3 separate regions of the Homo sapiens genome follow, and all the other regions are linked to region 2. Evidence: fine-mapped expression QTL. A gene starts in region 2. Each other region holds a variant in brackets. All regions are shown on one strand. Distances are between the middles of the regions.

Region 1 (5,000 bases), 33 kb after region 2:
ACCATGGCCAGCCAGCACCCTCTTCCTATGGCAGCTGGCATCAAGCATTGTGGTGACCAGAGGGAACAAAAGAAGGGACCCCCCTCTGCCTAGGGACAAGGGAGAAGCCGGGGTTTGGGCATATTCTGGCCACTCGAGGTGTCAGCCCCATCTCCGGGCCTATGTTTACCCTCTCCTCAAAGCCCCTGGCCCAGCCCAGGCAGAGCAGGAGGCCCTCAGTGGACCATTCCTTTGGGCCTAACTGGGGGGCTTAGAAGCAGGGCCATGTGTCCAGGTGGGGTTCCCTGGCTGTAGCCACAGGCCCAGGGCTCACTGCTGCCAGGCAGCCTAGAGGTGCTCCCCTTTTCCATCCCCCCAACCCCCCAAGCAATTGGGCGAACATCTTCCCGCCTAGCCCCAAATCCTGGCTTTCAGCACCCAGGCCCAGCTCAGCAGAGCCAGTGTAGGCTGCTAGGAGACAAATGCCCAGGCTGGACTATGCTCTCCACAGTACCTGGGGCCCCCATCCTGCTAAACGCTACAGGGGGTCTGCCCAGCCCCACCTCACCTGTCCCCATGCTCAGGCACTGCCTTCCCTGTTTTACCCCCAGAGTGTACAGAGATGCCCCCTACTCTCCTCCCCTGCTTTAAAATCCTTCAATCACAATTCCACAGAGGACTCACCTTGCCTATGTGTATAAAAACAAAGCCAGGGCATGCCCACAAGCAGGAGATGGGAACATCACCCGCACCTGGCCGAATGGCTCTGAAGCGAAGACTCCACCAGGCCCAGATTGTATGGAGTGGAAGGTGGGGGTGGGGGAGGAGCAGCAGAGTGCAGATTTAAACTGGCTCTTACAATCCATCTCCAGGGTTTGCACCTGTTTCCCCATGTAGTTTTTAATAGCATCCCGCTTCATACTCAGAAGTGTCCCAGGGTGGACAAGACATTGTGTGGCACCCTTGCAATGGCCCGCGCTGAGCAGTGGGAGTAGGGGATGGGGAGGGCGGGGGGCAGGTGCCCCTCTCCACTCACCTTCCCAGAAGGCCCCACCCACCTCCCTCAGCACCATCTCCAGTGGGTGGGGCAACATCTGTCCTGGCCTCAGATTGCCCAAGACACCATTTGCTCACGGAGGCCACCATGCCCCAATATGTACTTCCCGTTTCGGGACCACCAAGCTCTGGGGACTGGAATGCAGGCAGTGGAAGCCCCAGATTGACTTAACCTGTTGACAGATCTTCAGAGAAACTGCTGGTAGGAGGCAGCTGGGGAAGGTGGCGATGGCCAGTGGGCAGGCAGGCCTGGCCCCAGAGCCACTGTGGTACAAAGAGGAAGTCTGACAGAAGAGCAGCCTCGGGCAAAACGGGGGAGCCAAGGCGGCCACGGGGGAGAAGTCTCTCCACCGTGCCCTGTGTCTGGTGCCTGGGAGGGTGGCCCAGTGTCCATCTTGTCCCACTGATGCTGCCACATCCCAAGGCTCATGTCTCAGAACGAGAGCTGCTGAAGGGCTGGACGTTCTGAGACTTCTTAAGATGTAAGTCATTTGGCATCTGTAGCTGGTGAATTTCAGGTCTCTAGGGGAGAATCTCAGCACCCCAAAATCCTTGGAACAGGGGCTGAGCCGTCCAGCATCCCCATGTAGCATCCAGAGGGGTTGAGGGGCTGGGCTTCTGGGATGTCACAGTATCTGAGCCCAGAGCAGGAGGGAGGGAACCAGGGCCGAGGCCAAGGAGGCCACTCACAGAGCCAGCCCTGGCTCAAATGCACCTGCCCCAGACCCAGCCACAACAGCCCACTGTCCCCCAGCTGGGCTAGATGACCTCAAAGTTTGGAGAGTCAGGGACAGGGTCTGCAAGAAAAGGAGAAGCAAAGTGAACGGGGCCCCTCTGCCCCTCACCCTCAACCCCACCCCGTGAGGCCGTGGAACTCTTCAGGGAGGTGAATGGGGGCCCCTCTGTCCCTCACCCTCAACCCCACCCCGTGAGGCCGTGGAACTCTTCAGGGAGGTGAATGGGGGCCCCTCTGTCCCTCACCCTCAACCCCACCCCGTGAGGCCGTGGAACTCTTCAGGGAGGTGAATGGGGGCCCCTCTGTCCCTCACCCTCAACCCCACCCCGTGAGGCCGTGGAACTCTTCAGGGAGGGCAGGGAGTGAGGCCGATGCCCTGCAGGCCATGAGGTCATGACCTTACAGGTCATCGTGCTGTGAAGGTCAGGAAACACTTACCCAGGGATGGGAAGAAGACGTCTCCGGGGCCTGGAGGAGACAGGGGGGTGCTGGGCTCCGAAAGCAGATGCCGCCCAGACTCAGAAGGCTGCCGCTGGGCCACATAGGACAGGGGGTGCCTGACTTTGGCCTCGGGTATCCCCTGGGCAGGTGGTGAGGCTTCAAAGCCGGGGTTTTCAATCCCTTGAATGTTGCTGCCACAGAACCAGAATGGAAGGTCATCTGTGCTGTCC[G/A]GAGCGTGAACTCTGCCCTCCCTGCCCCCAGTTTTTCTCTCCTCCCTTTCTCTCACCTACATCCCCATCCCCAAGCCTCAGCAGCATCTCCAAGCAAGAAGGCAGGAGCCAGGCCCACAGAGCAAAGGCCATGGGCTGCACCTGCCCACCTGTCCTGAGCTGAGGGCATCAGGGCCCACCAGAACAGACCCCAGCTCCTCCCTGTGGTCTGACCATCAACCCCGGGCACAGCCAGGAAGCCAAAAATCACAGACACTTCTAGAACTTCAGCCTCAGGAATTTGGGGACAAGTTTCTCTTTGGTCAATAGAGTTGATGGCATTAGGATCGAACATCCCCAAAGCCTGTCTTGAGCTGAGGGGAGGGGTTCTCTTCTCTTCCCAGTTGGGAGTGGGATAACTTCTGAAGACCCCTGCAACTCTTAGATTCTAGATGAGTTGCAAGCAGGACTTCCTTCAACCTGTCTTGAAGATCATCCCTTTCAAACACCTAGAGGAGCTTTGTGTTTGGTGTTGCAGGTACCGGGGCAGGAACTTGGGTTCCCTGAACACACCCTCCAGGCCAGGCTGCATGGCAGCTTCCTGCCCAGAGCACACCAATACACAGTCCCCATCCCCTCTGCCCCTAGACCCAGCCCACTGCACCACTCTGGGACCCCTCAGCCTCTGCCCTTGTGGCCTGCAGCGGCCTAACAGCTTTCTCCTTGGAGTTCTCTGCGGGCAGGAGGCACAGCTCAAGGGCTGTGGCTGGGGCTGGGCCCGCTGGCCTCCTTTGCATGTCTCACTGTCTGCCCCAGACAGTGCTTCCTCCCTGTCCCCATCCTGGCCCAGGCTGACCACTGAGACCCGAAGGTGGGTGCATGACACATCTGAGCAGAATCAGAGCTCAGCCTGCTGAGTCGGGGTGGCAGGAGAACAGCCAATCTGCACAGATGTGCAGGCTTCAGCAGCAGATGGCAGAGGCTCTTCTGACCAGCTGCTCTAGGCAGCTAAACAGGGCCCCTACTGCACAGAAGTATCTCTTCCTGGATAGCCGGCCCAGGAAGTTTTCTCAAGAAGGTCTCCATGGGCCTTACCTGTCCATCCGCACCAGCTCCTGGGCACCTAGGGACAGACAGACAGAGAAGCTGGTCATGGAAGGGAAGGCTTCCCCATACAACATCCCTGCCCCTGCTGGCAGATGCCCTGCAGGGAACAGGAGCGAGCCCAGGAGGGCCCTGCACAGCTCCGGACTCCATTTCTTTTCACATGGGTGCTGTCCAGCAAGCGATCTGCGTGTCTGTCCAGCAGATGGGGCCTCCATGAGGGGCCCATTTTGACGACTGATAAATGAAACTCTATCTGCATTTTCCAGGAGTGTAAGAACGCTATCTGCCATCAGGAGACCAAAGGCAGCCAGCGCTTTCTCCTATGGCTTGACTTACACAGTGTCAGACCTTCAGGATTTAAGTATCGAGCAAAGGTCAACTCTTGAATTTGCTAACTGGTGTCTCTTGTTTGAACATTTGCCAGGTTCTGGTCTTTAGCCATGACTTACTGGGTGGGAGTGTTTAAGGTCAGTTCCTAATTAGAGGGCTCCTGGTCCTCTCTGTCCTATCCCCTACATTGCCTAATAGGGTGGCATTCTAGGGGACATCTCTCAGGGAAACCTTACAAGGTGCAAGTCCCCGATCACTTCCCAGCCACTTCACTCACTTTCTGCTTCTCATCCAAGTTGCTGCCGCTTGCCTCAGCCTTGGGACACCCCACCCCCCAAACTGGCCACCAATTAGATGCAGTGACCCCAACTTCCCTCTTTCATGCAGCACCCCATGTCCTCCCACAGATGCTTCTCGTTTTAAGGAGATTTACTGCTGATTACGATGGGGAAACAGATGGTGGGGGAGGGGCACAACAACAGAACAAACACAGGGAAGTTACCCAAAAGTTCCTGAAATCTATTCAAACCATGGCTATTGCTTACAGCCGACTCATGGGTCAGGCTTCGTGCAGGTGCACACGGGTATTCCCTCATCTCATCCTCTGTGCCACCCTTTGGGGTGAGGGTTGTTGGTCCCATTTTAGAGCTGGGGAAACTGAGGCTCAGTCCAAAGCAGGATGGAAATCCACACCTGTTGGCCTCTCCAGCAAACTGCCGTCCTCAAGGCTCCCAGCCCTTTCCTTTTCTTTTTTTCCTGAGAGTGCCTCATTCCTGAGCAGGCTCTCTGGGCCAGCCTTCCACCAGGGAGGGCACAGCAACACCTGCTCCCCCTGCCCTGCTGCCCAGCGTTGCTCTTCTGTTCCAAGCCCTTTACCTGCCCCCACCCACCCCCAGCCATGGGTATTCCTGCAGGTAGGTTGTGGTGTGTTCTAGGAGAGGAATAGGGGAGTTCTGAAAGCAAGGGTGAGGTGGCCACAGCCCCCGAGTGACCCACTATGGGGCTTCACGTGGGGGCCCCCGGGAATGAGGGGAGGGAGGGATGACAAGTTGTTAAGGGCCGGCCACAGGAAATAAGTTGCGAGCCAAAAGCCACCTGGCACCAGAGCAATCCTTTCTCAGTTACCTCTGTAGCCAGGCAGA
Region 2 (5,000 bases):
CCCACGGGTGTGTTTAGTTGGGTCCTTGCCATGTTTTTATCAATGTAATTATGAATATTTTCAAAATAATAACAGATTTCACAAAAATATATGGGTGCCTGAATTCTCTTGAAATGTCAGAATTTCACCACTGGCATTGGCCCATGTTCCTGCCTCATCCCTGTGTCTGGGGCTGAGCAGCCGCTGCCCCCTGTAGACAGGGCACTGACCTCCAGCTCCCCACCCTCCCCCACAGGCCCACCACACACCTTATTTCACCTGCCTGGCCCCGTGGGGATTCCTGTGACTGCTTCCCCATGCAGTCCAACTTGCTCCCACGACAGGTGGGAAACTGAGGTCCGAAGAGGGGATTTGGCATTAGGGAGCCAGTGAAGGTTTTAGAGGTGGGGAGTGACAAGCCAGAGCTCACTCCTTGGGAAGGCTTGGCTGGCTGCATTGTGGGTCACAGTAGGGTGGGGTGGGGCAGCTTGGTGGTGGGAAGGCCAAGGCCACATTGTGAGCCAATGGCCAAGTGAAGGTCAGAAGCAGGTCTCCTGACTCCTGGCCCCATGGCCTTGCCACCCCTCTGGCCCCCAGCCCTTTCGGAGCTCAGTGAGCTGCTCTGGGAACAGGTGGGAAATAAACCCACAAGGAGTTGACAAGGGGGCTGGAAACCCCCCAGGGACATCATACACCTGACAGGGCATTTCCTTTCCCACTGAAGATCATCCCATTAGACGCAGTGCAGCAGACGGTCCTTGTCGATGGAAAACCAGGCTGAGCTTTTGGCTCAATATGTCTGGGGTTGTAATAAAAATGCTCACAGATCCTGGCCAGCAGATAACACATGACCAGAGGGTACAGATGAGCAGGGCCACCTGGAGAGCACTGGCTGGGCCCTCTCAAGGAAGTGGAGGGGCCTCAGCCCAGAATGGTGCTGTCAGTGCCGGAGTGCAGGCCCAGTGTGGTCAGCTCTGTCAGTTTCCCAAGAGAAGCCAGAAATCTGGATTTTTTTAAAGGCAAACATTCTAGACGTTTAAATGTTGGCAGCTAATTCAAATTTGTTGAAGGCAAGAAAGAAGAGAGGTGGGGTGGGGGAGAACACAGCAAAAGCCAAATAAACTTGATTTCAAAATAATGTGAAATGAATTTTCAAATATTTGAAACACTACACAGGCCAAACCAAACACATAAGCAGAGGACGTCCAGCTTGCAGGTCAGCATGTGTGATATTTAAATTCTACTGACGTGGACAAGCAATCCCAGGGGGTCTGATAAAAAGTCATGATTTCCCTTTAACCTTGGGGTCTTTCCTTTTCATGAGGGTGGGGGATAGCAGATTTTCCTCCTTCCCAGCTTGCAGCTTAGATAACAGTTGAGTTTCTAGCACGGAAGCTCAGGAGGAGGAAAGATGTCAGGTCACGCTCAGAGAAACCCTGCCACAGGTAGTGGGGAGGGGAGTGGGCCACCTAGTTCCCCACCCGAGGGACTCCTGTCCCTACCCCAGGCACTCACCAGCAGCCGCAGGACCTCACTCCTGGCTCCCTGCGCCCAGCCAACTGAGGGCATGCAGAGCACCCCACCTCCCACCCATTCCCCACCACCACCCCTCCCAGCACTTCCAGGCAGAAAACGACCCCTCCCAGTGCCTGGCTGGAAAGTGTGATGCCCGTCTAGCTGCCCAGGGCCTCCGCCTTTGCGGCATCAGGCCTAGAGAGCACTCTGGCTGGGCAGCTGTGCATGGGTTGGCCTTTCCTTGAGTCTGAGCAGGGAGGAGGGATGGGGTGTGCCCACCGCTCATTCCCGTGGGGAGAAAATCAGCCATCCCTCTCTCCTACCCTGGACAATGCTTGGCCAGGAGTAAGAAAAGGGCAGTCTGAAATGGGAGATGCCTCAATCCTACTAGTTCTAATGTTATTTCAAGGCCTTCAAAGGAATCTGGAGACCCTACTGGGCTAGCAAATAGGATCCAGGCTTCAGGCCTTGGGACCTGCTTTAATTTAAAAAATAAGTGAGGCCAGGCGTGTTGGCTCTCACCTGTAATCCCAGCACTTTGGGAGGCCAAGGCAGGAGGATCACTTGAGCCCAGGAGTTTGAGAACAGCCTGGGCAACATAGTGAGTCTTCATTTCTGAAAGAAAAAAAAAAAAGGTTTTTTAATTAGCCAGGTGTGGTAGTATGTGCCTGTGGCCCCAGCTACTCAGGAGGCTGAGGCAGAAGGATCATTTGAGCCCAAAAGTTTGAGGCTACAGCGAGCTAGAATCATGCCACTGCGCTACAGCCTGAGCGACAGAGCAACACTCTGTCTCAAAAAAATAAAAAATAAAAAAAAAATAAGTGGAGTTGTAATTAGCATCTGAGTAGTTCCTGTGGCAACGAGAGATTCCTAAGTGCTTGAAAACAACACAACACCCTTCCTGGAGCACGAGGCAAGTCCAGCTGCCAGGCCCCTTGACACCCGGCTACTGACCAACCAGCAAAGGCCAGCTAGTACTGGGAGAGGATGCCTTGCCCGGACCAAGGCCAGGAATCATCTGGAGGGCAGTTGAAGCCACTCCCTTCCCACTGGGGCCAGGGTGCACCAGCGGGCCCTGCTCTGGACATATCTCTGCAAGCTCAGTCTAGGACCCTCCTCTTCCCTTGGAGTTCCACAGAGCAGGACCTGCTGTGGGCAGAGAAGACTGCTGTGTGGCCTCGGGCTAGTCCCTACCCCTTACTGGGCCTTGTTTCCCCTCTCTACAGAACCAGAGGACTGCCTAGGTCTGAGCATACCCTCACATTCTCCCAGGAGTCCCCAGCAAGGGTCTCCACCACACTTCCCTCTCCAAGCCTTCTCCTGCAGTCCCCCAAGCACTGACCTCAGAGCCAGACCCCAGCCGTCCGGAGCTCCGTGGAGAGGTCTTCTCAGCTGTGGAAGGGAGGCCCAAGGAGCCCTGGGCAGTGCCTGTGACCCCAGCCCTGCCAGGCTCTGCTGTGCCCTGCAGCCCTCGGTCAGCCTGGCCAGCAGAGTGGCCTCCCCGTCACTCCCCAGCTGGACCTGGCTTTGTCTAGAAGAGTTTGGGCCCTGCCTTGGGGGAGGGGATAGCTAAGGGAGTAGGGATGGCAACTGGGTTGGGAAGAGGGAGAGGGGAGCTGTCCAGAGACTCTGGGATGCCCCCTGGCCTTCCCACCGCCTCTCTCCAGCCTGTCTCCTTGGAGCCCTCTCAGGGGTGGAAGACTCTGGGGAGACGCAGGGGGAGGGTTTTACTGCCTCTGCGGCCCCATGGCGCTCACCTTCCCCTGTCGGAAGTTTGAATGGTATGGTCGGCGGCAGCCAGAGGTTCGCTATTCAGTGCCTGCCAGCCACCAGGTTACCCTGGAGAGGGGCTACAAGCCATGGCAGGAGGGGAGCAGGGAGAGTGCTGGTCCCTGGCAGCCCCTGAGGCCCCTCCTGCAGCGTCCCTGGGCCCCATTCCTTCCAGGCTTTTCCCTCAGCTTGTAGAAAAGCACCTTCCCTTTGAAGGTGTCTGGCTACAGAAGCGAGGGGTGAGGGGCATCTTCAAAGGTCAGGGGGATCCCAGGGCAGAAAGCATAGGACTGACGGACCTCCAAGGCCATGCTCCCCACAGTGCGGGTGGGCCACGGGAGACCTCCACTGGAGGCTCTTTCCAAAACACACACACACACACACACACACACACACTTCCCTCCCCCAGCCTTCTTTCTCCCCAGAAGCCAGAGCTTCCCTGACAACCAGCTGCCTGCTTAGGAGCCCAAGTCTTTGGCAGCTTCCCCACCAGGGACCTCCAAGCTCCCAGAAATGCAACTCAAGACAGGAGTCATGGCCCTGTCCAAGACCTGAGCCTCAGACCCATTCCCTTTTTTGGAGCCCCAGTTTCTGGTTTTTAGCTGTTCCCTCCTGCCCTTGCCCATAAAAAGAGGCACTGTCTGCCAACCCCAAGATGGACAAGAGATTTCCTATGGACTGTTAAAGCTGGAGAGGTCCTCAGGGGTCATCTAACTCCTCTTCTGAGAGAAAAGAGCCCCCGTCTTCTCTCAGATGACCAAACTGAGGCCCAGAGAGGTGTGACCTGCCCAGGGGCACCCAGCAAGTGAGTGGTGGGGGACTTGGTGTTTCCCCTGTGCTGGGTGGGCAGGGGCAGGCAGTAGGCATCCAGGGTAGGCAAAGCATCCGGCCCAAAGGTGTTTTCAATGCCCAGAGTCCCCATTGGGATTCCTGCACCTTCCATCACAGCATTCACTGCCTTCATTTTCCTTAACTTCCTCTCCTGAAACCAACTGAACACTTCATCTGTGGCCCCCATTCCTCCTGAGATGACAGAAGACAAAGCTTCCAGGGTGGTGCAGGCTGCTGGAGCAGGGAGGCATCAAGGAAATCTCACCATGGATAGGCATGCAAGGGCATGCTCTGGGCAACGTGGCTCTCTTCACCATCCTGAGCCCTTCCAGATCTGGACAATTGAAGCACCCTGTTACATCCCTCCACCTGCCAGCTCCTAAGGTTTCTCAGGGAATGGAGAGAGAAAGAACTGCACGGCAAGGGGCAATCCAGCCATCCCCAGCTCTGGCATAAATCCAGAGGGCTCTCTGGAGAAGGTGGCATCACTCATGTTGACCTTCACCACACATCCCCATGCTAGGCACCAGCCAAGACGCTTTGCAAGATGACTTCTGATCTTCCCCTCAACCCTGCAAGGCTGGTCATCATTGTGCCCAGTCTAGAGATGAGAAAACTGAGGCTCAAGGGGGCTAAAGTACTTATCCATAGTGCCATAGAGAGTAAGTGACAAAGCCTAAATTCATGCTTGGGTGTGCCTGACCCAGGGCCCTTGTTCTTTTTGCTCCAGTGTACTCGTCCTCCTCCCCACCATCAACATGCTCATCAGAATCCTTAGACACACTTACCGCAGTGCCCGGATGTGCATCGAGGCCAGCGCCTGCTACAGGCTCCTCGCTCTGCCTTCATACCACCATGTCTATACTCCCTGTCCTGTGGAGGTTCCAGGGCATCAGTGCTGCTGA
Region 3 (5,000 bases), 25 kb after region 2:
CCCACTGATTGGCTGTGTGGACTTGCACACATTCCTTCCCTGCACCTCAGTTTTCTCTTCTGTAAATGAGGATGATGATGCCAGTACCTAACTCACAGAGTTGGAGAGAGGACCCAGTGAGTTAATGCAGGCCCCAGCATATCAGAGGTGCTCACAGAATGTTCGCTGCTATCATCCTTATTATCTCCATCATTGCTCTGGGGTAGATGCAGCAAAGCTTTTGGGAGGTACAGGGGGAGCCTTCGGGCTACAGGAGCAGGTGCCAGACTGTGCCCCAATGCCTTGAGTCCAGAATGACTGCTCTCCTGCTCTCCTCCCAGAACGTGGGTGGAGGTACTGCTGTGGTCCAGGTGAGAGCCACTGACCGTGACATCGGGATCAACAGTGTTCTGTCCTACTACATCACCGAGGGCAACAAGGACATGGCCTTCCGCATGGACCGCATCAGCGGTGAGATCGCCACACGGCCTGCCCCGCCTGACCGCGAGCGCCAGAGCTTCTACCACCTGGTGGCCACTGTGGAGGACGAGGGCACCCCAACCCTGTCGGTGAGCGATGGGGGTGGCCACAGGGAGGAGCGGGTGGGCCAGGGCAGCTCCGCCTCCGAGTGAGGGGAACAAGATGGGTGAGAATGGAATTCCACACAGCAGGCGAATCCTTGACAACTCCTTTAGTCCATCTGCCTTTAGTCCATCTGCCCAAGATGGCCTCCCCTTACGGAGGCCTGTTGCGTGCAAAGCTGGGGTGCTAGTTTGGCCTCCCGAGTCTATAGCTACTCAGAAGCTCTGTTTAGTCCTCTTTTCTCTCACAGAGCAGCTCTATGGGGTGGTACAGGTTGAGCCTCTGTATTGGGGCCTGGCCCAGGGAGCAAGTGGGTATGAATCTAGCCCCCGCTTCACTTGCCCACCTATGCACTGTGAGGTCACACCAATGTGCATGGTGGTGTCTTACAGAAAGGGTGCCTCTCTGGCCCTCTTCCCCTACATTGTGTGGTGTGGCATGCTGTCACAACACGTCAGGGTGGGAAGGGATTCGTGTCTGTGGTTCACACTAACGCTCGAATGAACAGCACCACTGCCCAAGGCAATGTTCAAAGTTTGCCAGGTGAGGGAAGGACTTGTGGTCCTCAAGGGCTGGATGGAGATCTCTAGGAGCTGATGAGCTGTGTTGGGAGTGGCTTATAAACTGAAAGCAGGGAATTTGGAGTCAGGAGCACTGTGGCTGGCTGCATGATCTTGAGCAAGTCAGAACCTCTCAGCATATCGCTTTTGTCATCTGCAAAAGGGAGATAATATCTACCTCATAGGTGTTGTTTGGGGAATCAAATTAGCTCATGTCTGTGGAAGCACTTGGTAAACCATGAGGAGGAAGAGGACTGTTATTAGTTCTCTATTGCCACAATAATGCTGCCTTACAAACCAAACAAAACAGAGGAGTAAAACAATAACCACATAGTTAGCGCTAATTCTGCAGGCTGGCAATCTGGACATGGCTTAGCCGGGTGGTTCTTCTGGTCTCAGCTGGGCTTCTGCATTTGTATGTGGGCAGCTGCCTGTCAGCAGGGTGCTATGCTTCTGAGGGTTGGCTCGCCAGCAGCTGGGGTGACAGGGACAACTCATCCTCCAGAAGGCTAGCCCGTGCCTGTTCTTATGGGGCTGGAAAGTGTCCAGAAGAGACAGCAGAGGCGTGCAAGGCCTCTTGAGTCCCTGGCTTGGAACTGGCACAAGGTCACTTCTACCACAATCTGTTGGCCAAAGCAAGTCACAAGGCCAGCCCAGACTCAAGCTATGGGAAAATAAACTCTACCTTCTGAAGGAATGAGCTACAAAGTCACACTGCAAAGAGTGTGGTTACAAGGAAGGTGAAGAGTTCAGGGACAGTTTTGTAATCTGTCTCCTGGAAGGACCCTGATTGCAAATGAGGCCCCAGCTCTGTCCCTCTCATAGCAGGTTAGACCTCTCCCCTTTGACAGCAGCACTGTGGGAGGTGGGGTCACACCAGGTCTGGGCAGGGCTCTTTGTCTGGAGCTTCTCTGGAGATGTTGGTCCAATAACTCCAGGAATTGGGATTGGGTTAATAATCCAGGAATCCCCACCCCACCACAACATTCTGAGGAGTCCAGGAAATGAGACTGACTCTGGGCACCCCTGTGGGCATCCTTAGCCCCATGGCTGCACAGTGTCATCACTAGCCACCTCAGCCATTCACACCCAGTGGGCTAAACAAGGATACATTTATAGGACACGTGTCACTCACTGGGCAGGGTGGGGCTGGGGCAGAGAGGGGTATCATTTATTGTGTTAACGTGGGAGGACCCAGTTTCGACATGACCCCACCCCACTGCACTTGGCTTCAGGGTGGATCATCTTGGTCGTCCCTTCAATAGCATTTGTGAAGTAACAGAAACTGACTATGGAGTCATAAAGAATCAAAATGCATTTTCC[T/C]ACAGAGCAAAAATTCTACAGAGAATGTGGATTTCAGGCTCAGAGGTGTCAGAGCTCATGTTTCTTGGCCTTTCCCTCATGGTGGCAAGATAGCTACTATAACTCTAGGCATCAAGTCAGCATCCAAGGCAGGAAGATGACAAAAAGATGGCAAAGGGCTATGGCAGCTACTTCTGCCCTTTTATCAGGAAAGCAACAGGTTTCCCAGAACCACCCTCCAGAGTGCTGCTTGTGTCTCCTTGGCCAGAAGTGGCTCACGTGGGCACCCTAGCTGCAAGGGAGGTTAGAAAAAATGAGGGACAGGATTATCATGGTCAGCATATTACTTGGGGGCCAGATATATCACTTCCCACACAAAAGCAGGCCTCTGTCAGTGAGGAAGAAGTGGAGAATGGATTTGGGGTGGGCATCTGACAGCATTTGCCACACTGCCCTCCCCAATCCTAATGCAGGCCAGTCAACGCACCACCCCCACTCCCCACCCACACTCCAACCCCCACAGTCCTAGGGTCTCTCAGGGAGACCATCGGTGGAATCCATAACATTCTAAGACCCTGCAGTTTGTAGGCAAAATCAGGCTTCCTTTGGGTCCCCAGAATAAATGGGAATTGAAGAAATGGAAAATCACCCTGGCCACAGTTAATCACCCAGAATGCATGGGCCACTATCCAAGCAATCCTTTAAAATCTTGGGATTGGTCCCCATGGCTAAAAAGAGTTTCCATCTGCTGGCCAAACCCTCTGCAGGGACCCATCCCACCCCTTGGGGAGCATAAGCATTCCCACCTCACATGTCAGCCCCTGACATTCTGGTTCTCACTGAAGCAGGGCTCAGCCCATACCAGCTCCCCGGTGAGAGCAGGAGAAGCTGGGTAGCATCCGCCCTGCTCATCCTGGTCATCACCAGCTCTGCTCCCTGAGGCCCCAGAAAACACCCTCAGGATGATTAGGACCAGGGACCCTGAGGCCATCCATCTCCAGGGGAATATATATGGGGCTTCCTGGGCTGAACCATGATGCTTTCTTCCAGACCGTAATATAAACAGCAACAGGTACCAACTTGAAAGATGTATAGGAAAACAATTTTAAGTCGAAAAGAATCCATCCATCTTCAATTTTTCCCCCTGCTTCTCCAAGTTGGGAAAATATTGCTATCATTTGGTTTTTGCAGGGGACACCTCAGTGAAGAATTGCAGTGACCATAGGGACATAGAGAAACTAGCACTAAACCATATTTATTCATTCATTCACTCATTCACTCATTCACTCATTCATTCATTCAGCCATTGTCCCTGAATGGCCACTATGTGCCAGGCACTGGAGATACCGAAATGAAGAAAATGTGGTCTGTGGCCTGAAGAAATGAAGTTGAGTAAGGGAGGCAATGAAAACACTGGTGTGCAATGGGGCACTGAGAAGGGCTTGGGGAAGGCTTCCTGGAGGAGGTGACACCTGGGCCGAGTCTTGTTGGTCAGTCTTGGTTAGCACAGCCAAGAAAGAAGCATATTCTGGGGTTCAGCCTGCACAAAGGCTGAAGAGCAAGCAATAATCAGGGATGGGTTCTGGGAGCCACAGGTGGTTTAGGCCCGGGGCTGCTTCCAAGGCCAAGGGCAGGACTCTCTATTTCCATATCCTCCCGGGACAGTGTATATGGGACTCGCCATAAGAGCTGCTCCCGCTGCCTTCTCAAGACCCCCCCTCTACTGCCTCCATGCCTGGCCGAGCCAAGGTGGGGATGGGGCAGAGCTAGCAAGCAGGGGTCCTGCAGCCCACAGTGCCTACCAGGGTAGCTTGCCTCCAAGGAGCACTGGACCCTTGAAGATTTGCTTCCACTGACCAGACCCTCAACTTTGGGCAGTAAACCCCTCAGGGTTATGAATATCCCCAAGAGCAGAGCCCTTCTCTGCCTCTGGGCAGATTTCACTGGATGCGTGTATGAGGAAGGAGCATTGTCCCAGCCCCTCCTAGAGCAACCAGAGACCTGAGCAGCATGCAGCCAACCACCCTGAGATTCCAGGAATGGCTGCCACAGTCTAATGGGTGAGACAGCAGCTGCTACCCTGCATAGATCCATCCAGAGAAAGCCAGCAGGCCCACTTGCCATCCTTTTACTCCCACTGCAGTTATCTGCCTGGCTTCAAAATGGCCTTCACTGGCTCAGGACCAACCTTGCTGGAGGACAAGGGCATGAAAGATTCATTCATTTGTTCATCCAACACCAAGTATGTGTTATGTGTGAGGCCTGTAGTACAGGCTAGGACACCAGAGATACATCAGGCACAGGTCTGCCCTCCAGGAGCCTACGGTCTGGCAGGGGAAGGCACATGTACTGGAGAGCTGACACTGTGATGTGGTAGAGTGCTAGGAGCCTGGAAGCCAGGGCAGGTTTTCTGGAGGAAGCATCATTTGCATCCCTGTTTTGAAAGATGTGGCTCCCTAAGCAGGGGGCCTGAGATTTGGCTGCTAAGACCCTCCCCAGAGCCAAGAGAAATTCTCTGAGTCCCTCCAGCTCTACTTTTCTCCCTGAGACCCTCGTCCCCCCAGGTTCCTGAGAGCT

What was found. PIP is the estimated chance that this variant, and not a neighbour inherited with it, causes the effect.
Region 1: its variant is fine-mapped to the expression of C10orf105 in whole blood (TOPMed, PIP above 0.99).
Region 3: its variant is fine-mapped to the expression of C10orf105 in whole blood (TOPMed, PIP above 0.99).

Annotation. Positions count from the first base shown.
Region 1 is chr10:71,749,459-71,754,458 of GRCh38, forward strand. The region is part of intron 38 of CDH23 (cadherin related 23); the gene reads left to right. VSIR (V-set immunoregulatory receptor) reads right to left here. Exons shown (of 7, transcript NM_022153.2): 5 at 3,517-3,544; 6 at 2,210-2,403; 7 at 1-1,832. The coding sequence ends at 1,795. Among named protein-coding and RNA genes, the nearest start is that of VSIR, 22 kb to the right of the region's middle. The variant G/A (reference allele first, on the strand shown) is at 2,443.
Region 2 is chr10:71,716,791-71,721,790 of GRCh38, forward strand. It overlaps C10orf105 (chromosome 10 open reading frame 105), which reads right to left and starts at 2,988. Exons shown (of 2, transcript NM_001164375.3): 1 at 2,837-2,988. The region is part of intron 28 of CDH23 (cadherin related 23); the gene reads left to right. RefSeq lists a silencer at 263-460 and an enhancer at 2,377-3,125.
Region 3 is chr10:71,741,374-71,746,373 of GRCh38, forward strand. It overlaps CDH23 (cadherin related 23), which reads left to right. Exons shown (of 70, transcript NM_022124.6): 38 at 321-548. Among named protein-coding and RNA genes, the nearest start is that of C10orf105, 24 kb to the left of the region's middle. The variant T/C (reference allele first, on the strand shown) is at 2,445.